Linked DNA regions of Homo sapiens: region 1 is linked to region 2. Evidence: fine-mapped expression QTL. A gene starts in region 2. The other region holds a variant in brackets. All regions are shown on one strand. Distances are from middle to middle.

Region 1 (2,913 bases), 160 kb after region 2:
TGGAGTGGAATGTTTCTTTTTTTTTTTTTTTTTTTTTTTTTTTTTTGCAAGTGGGAGTTAAATCTCTCATCTGGACCATAGTGTGTTGACTTCGCTCTTCCCTGTACCCATTAAATTAACTAAGCAATAATTTCCTGACTGGGGAAGTAATCGGGATAGCTTCACTTTCCCAGGTTTCCTCCCTCCTTTTTGGTGTGTTAGGTTTGTGTTTTGCTCTTTTCCCTTCTCTCCTCTTGTCCCTCTATCTGATTTGGCTGAGGATTATTTTTACTTTTTCCCATCATTCTTTCAGCTTTATCTACTTGGAAATATCAGTCAACCAAAGTTTAAGTGGATGGAAGTCTTATCCTATGATTTTAAAGCTTTCATAAGCTAAAGTTCTATGTCCAACATTATTACATTTAAAGAAAATAACAAAGAGTTTGAAATTACAAGGGAGAGTGTAATCTTCACATTCCTAGCCACCATAACTCTGGAAAAACACACATCTTTTGTTCCTGATTCAAAATATTAATTTCCTACAGAGCTCCCAGCTTCATAAATTCACAGCTTCCTTGGGAAAATCCCCATAACACTAGAAAGCCACTTTATCCTGTTTCAGTGAACATAGTTGTTAAGGAGGCTTGCATAGAAAAAAAGGAAACCAAAATATTTAAGGACTGGTTTTAGCATTAATTACATAATTTATAAATTATCTTACATAGTTATGAATTCTGAACAATTCTGAAGGGCCTAATCCACTTAGCCCTTAACTCTGCTAACATGCAGGTCTACTTATCTATAAAGAGAGGCAACAATTTGAACATTGCTATGGACATCTGTAGACATCTTTCAGTGGGAAGCTGAAAAATTTTCACTATAGGAAGACATTACCATTTCTGGCAATGGTCAGATCACCAGATTCCAGGGGGAGGTCAGGTAAGTGGACTTTTCTTTTTCTCTCCCTCTTATCCACTCCTTTTTTCTCTATCCCAACTCCACTAATTGAAAATGGTAGTAAGTAGATACCTTGGAGCCTCTAGCCCTCTGACTACAATAAGTCCTGAAATCATCTTTACATCACTAGAAAAGAGATATTTGCCTCCTGGTGGTTTAAAGCAACAGCATCAAGACTTCCTCTGCTTTCTTTGAGTTCTGTACAACTGGAGTCAGATTCCTTGAGGAGGAGGGGAGAGAGGACCATATAATGAGTAGATAGACCAAAGTCAGATCATAGGAAGGCAAGTTGGTGCAAATGCTTCCTCAGCCCTCTCTTCATTTCTTCTGCATTTGGAGATTTTGTTACAACTCGAGTTCCCTTTCTCTCAAATGAAAGCCTAGTGTGGAGCATAGGTTTTTCAAGATACGAGGGCAAAAGCATACTAATTAAACCCAGCTGTTGGCCTCTGCTCTCCCTCCATGAATCTGGCCTTACATCAGAAGTCTTACATTTGGGGAAAGGAGGGCTGGTAACTCCAAGTGCACAGGGGAAGGGAAGTTTGATTTTCATGTAAAAAGCACAGAGGGATTTTTGAAGCCATAATCCTTTGTTTAGCTG[C/T]GTTGTAATAGATAGTATACTTGCTTTGCAGCAAAAGGATTTAGGGCTTTCCAAAGGGTTGAGAGGTCTTGGAACACGTCTCCACTGCAGGCTACAAAATCATGTTGTCAAGAAACTTGAAATAATATAAACAATAATTATAAAATCCACATGCCACTTGGAAAAGGGATGTGGTAAGAAGAAAATGAGATAATATCAGTTAAGTACTTAGGAAGTAACAGGGACCTGTAATAGCAGCAGTAATTGTCCCTATTGTATAAATTTAATGTTTATTTTCCTATGCTGTTCTTCATTAGAGGTAACAAGTCTTGATGTTTTGTTAATACTAACCCTTCCAAGGCCATCAAGACACTGTACATAACTTATGTTACATCATCATCCTCATTTCCTTGGCAATATTCATGAATTCATTCAACAAATATTTACTGAATACCTGTTACATACCAGGCTAAGTACTAAATGCTGGAGGTTCAAAGATGGGCAAGATCTGGTCCTTGCTCTTAAAAGGCTTACAACTGAGTTAGAGAAACAGACACATGAACAACTAACTCAAACATAAAGCAGAGAGAGGTAAACACACCAATAGTGAAGAGGTTAAGGTGAAGATTCTTGCAAAGCAGCGCTGGAGAGTTACAAAGCAAGCAGCCAATTCAAACTAGGAGGGGACAGGGAAGGGAGTTAGAAAAAACTTCCAGGAATAGAGGAAGTTTGCACTACCTTCCTAACTGAATGAGGACTTGGTGTCCACCAAATCAAAGAGAGAGAATTGGGTAAGAGAGTAGCCTAAACAAGGTAGGGAAAGCCACAGGACCATGGGTCACCAAGACGTCTTAGTACAATGGCAAATCATATCTGTGCCTCGAACCAGGGAATGGGAGGAGTTCAGGCAGGAGTGGAGGAGTAGGCTGGAACCAGATCATAAAAGACCTTGTTTGTGCCTTGTCGTACTCCCACCTCTTCGTGGCCAAAGAGAGGCGGCCAGCCAGATACTAAGGAGCAGCTCGAGGCATGAGATCACAAGCACATAAGCACAGAAACCCCATTATACGAGCTTCCAGAGGGGACACCAAACAGTCCAGAGATACTCCAACTCACAAGTCCAGTTCCAAAACTCAGGAACTTGGACTTTTGTTTTTGCTGCAGGGCTGGATTCAGAGAGCACACAATGCCCAGTGTTGAAAGCCCCTTTTTGGAAGGAAGAACAGTTGCACATCTGGGAAAGGTTAGGGTCAAACATATAAATGAGGGGAGCGGAGCACATTACTCTGAGACACTCCGTCTGTGACGTCAATCACTGCTGGGTTTGGACAGAGGCTCTCTCTTGTGCAGCAGTCAGGGACCCATTAACTTTGCCCAGTGCCTGAGTGTTTATGTGG
Region 2 (2,913 bases):
ATATAAAAACACTATATTTGATGTAAACAAAAATGCAAGTGCCTAAAAAGGCAACCACATGTTTGACATTCACAAGATCATGAACCCTCCAATCCCACCTCTGCTATTCACTTATCTGGGCCATTTCAGGAGTGACTTCACCCTTGAGGCCTGTTGCTTTCACCTATGAAACCTGGGGTTTAACCAGGTGAGCATGAGGTATCCTCCTAACTCTAACACTATAATATCCTGGTCCTGTATTAGGAAACTTCAGTTTCACCCACATTACCTGCAGGCGACTTTTAACCTACTTGCCATGCTGCGACTATTACACAAAGCAACTGATGACAAGCCTTGGATGACAGGCCTCAGGGGCAATGCCTTCCACCTGGATGGCTACCTGATTCCAAAGACTTCAACAACCAATCCCATTCCTCCTACATCTTTACTCCTGCCTGAAGATTCGGACTCAACTTATTAAGAGCAACTTGGAAGGAAGGGGCAACAACCAAAAGAAACGAGTCACTAAAACAGTAGGGCCCTTCTCGGCAACCCCTGACACCACCCTGCACATCCAGTCCTTGAAAAGTTCTGTTTCTTTTCCTCCTATATCCAAGCCCTAAGATACCGCCCCTCCCCCACCCCAGCCCCCATATGCCACTGACACGCATTGGAGAGTGAGGATCAACGTCCCTTGCAGACGTGTGCACGGGCCTAGGAACCAGCTGACCCACGTTTCAACTGTCATTAACTTCTAACTACATGCCCCGTCGGGCCTGACCTGAGGCTGAACTCCTGTGACCTTCCAACTCCCCTGGATCTGCACGGCAGTCACTTGGAGGCACCGCCCCTGCGCTAGCTCCAGAGCTTGAGACAGGGTCCGGGCGGAGCTCCTTCCTGAGCCGGAGAAGACGCGCCCCTGTCCCTTCCGCGACTGCCGCCCCGCACTCCCTGCGGGGAGGTCGACCCCGGCGCATTCTAGGCCCCGCGGTCCTCCAGCGGGTTGGCCGCTACCTTGTCCAGCAGCCGGTAGATGCTGATGCCCGAGGTCTCCACTAGGAGCTGCCAGTCGGCCCCGGCCAGAGCGGGCTGCTGGAGCTCGGCGCAGGCCTCCCAGAACTGCTCCTCCGAGAAGCTTCCGGCGGCCAGCTCCATCCTTCCGCAGTCCGGGCTCCTCCGCCTGGAGGGCAGGCCGCGGACACCCTTAGTGTGGGCCTGGGGGCGGGGTGACCGGGCTGCCCCGGCTGCCCCGGCTGCCCCAGCGTCATTGGCAGGAAACTGAGGAGAAGGCGGGGCCTAGACTGGAGGAGCGGCCTGAGGGTGGGGCCCTGGAGGGGCGGGCCTAGAAAAGCGGGCGGGGCTGAGCAAGGAGTGAGGAGGATAGACAAGAAGTAAAAGGAGAAAAATTGGACTTGATGTGGGGAAGGAAGGAAGAGCTGGAGAAGTAAGGAGGCTTCCAGAGGGAAGGGAAAAAGGAAGGGAGACAGTGATGTCACCTCAAAAACAGCTCCTCAGTAGCCTATCCCATACTCCCTGCTACTCCCATAACCTACAGACCTGTTTGAGTGTCTCTCATTTACCTTTCTGAATAAAGTAGAGAAAGTCTCTTTGGTAGACATGAGAGGAGAGGTGGGCAGAGTAGAAATGCTGGAAAAATCCTAAGGGGTCAAATGCCAGAAGTGTATTTCAATATAATTTCTCTTCTTTCTGCTATACATTGTAAAACATTATTCTGAGACGAGGTCCATTGGATTCCCCAGAAGACTCTAGGGGTTCATAACACCAAAACAGTTTAGAAACCTAATCCATAATGGATCTACAAGGTTGTTGCCACCCTTGAGGGTAGAAACTGATCTGAAAGGTGTCGTACTATCCACCTAGGATTTCTGCAACTTGCATAATTTAGCTCACTGTGCAACTCAAACATCTTCTTGTTCCTTTGAAGTCCCTTGAGTAATACTGTATTTCCCACCAGCAGACTGTACTACCTGACTTTGAATAAAGTAGGTCGTTTGAACATCAAAACGATGTAACAGCCACGTGAGTGCCAATAAACTCTGGAAACTCATGTTTCCTAATCTGTAAAATGGGTCAAGAATTGTGCTACCAGTTACAGCTGAGGAGGTGGTTGGACAAGGAATAATTTTCCACAGTGCCCGTCCAAGTAAATGTTCAATAACAATTTCCACTTGTTTTGCATTACTATATTGAAATGCTTTTCTTTCCTTACTTGAAAGAAAGTTGATGGCAAAGTCTTAATTTATGTGATTTTCCAATCAGGCAAATGATCACATTTGGCAGCTTGCTTAGTTAGACACAGCAGAGATAAATAATTGCTTTCCTCAAGTCAGTCCTGGTTCTGTTTGGCTTTATAGGTGTGGAAAGAGGGATGTGAAATTTTCCTAGACTAAATGCACAAAAGTTTAGGCTAGACATACTTTCCCACTGTTTTATAACTCCTTGTAAATTTTCTATGTATTGTAAATCCATATTTTATTTAAATGGAAATTCATTGCTTGAAAAACCAATTGTGTAAAAACTATTGGCTATGAAGTATTTTCAAGTATCTTCAAGGAATCCATTATAAAGGTTTGATTTGATAAAGCTTTATTACTATATGGCAATAGACTAATGGAGACAAGCATAAGAACACAAACGACATCATGCAAGATATAAAGCACGCACTTCAAATTGTATTTATTGTATGTGTTTAAAAGTGTGTTGCCTAATAAACTCAGGAGAAAAATAAATATATCCTTGAATATGCTGAGATTTACACTCAGTTATTTTATTACAGTTAATGAAAGAATAATGTTAGGAAATATTTTATGGTATCTCTAAAGTCTAAAAACAGCTAGGAAAGGGATCCAGGAAGGCCTGTTCTTGAGAAGTTGCCTTAATAGCCTGTTTCCTTTGTGAAAAAAAACTCTCTGA

Evidence for each region. PIP is the estimated chance that this variant, and not a neighbour inherited with it, causes the effect. A credible set is the group of variants that fine-mapping cannot tell apart.
Region 1: its variant is the best candidate, but not a certain one, in a credible set for the expression of PCTP in whole blood (TOPMed, PIP 0.88).

What each region holds. Positions count from the first base shown.
Region 1 is chr17:55,587,612-55,590,524 of GRCh38, reverse strand. It overlaps LOC102724732 (a long non-coding RNA gene), which reads left to right and starts at 722. Exons shown (of 3, transcript XR_429997.4): 1 at 722-918. The variant C/T (reference allele first, on the strand shown) is at 1,538.
Region 2 is chr17:55,749,325-55,752,237 of GRCh38, reverse strand. It overlaps PCTP (phosphatidylcholine transfer protein), which reads right to left and starts at 1,187. Exons shown (of 6, transcript NM_021213.4): 1 at 994-1,187. The coding sequence starts at 1,134. RefSeq lists a silencer at 1,050-1,389.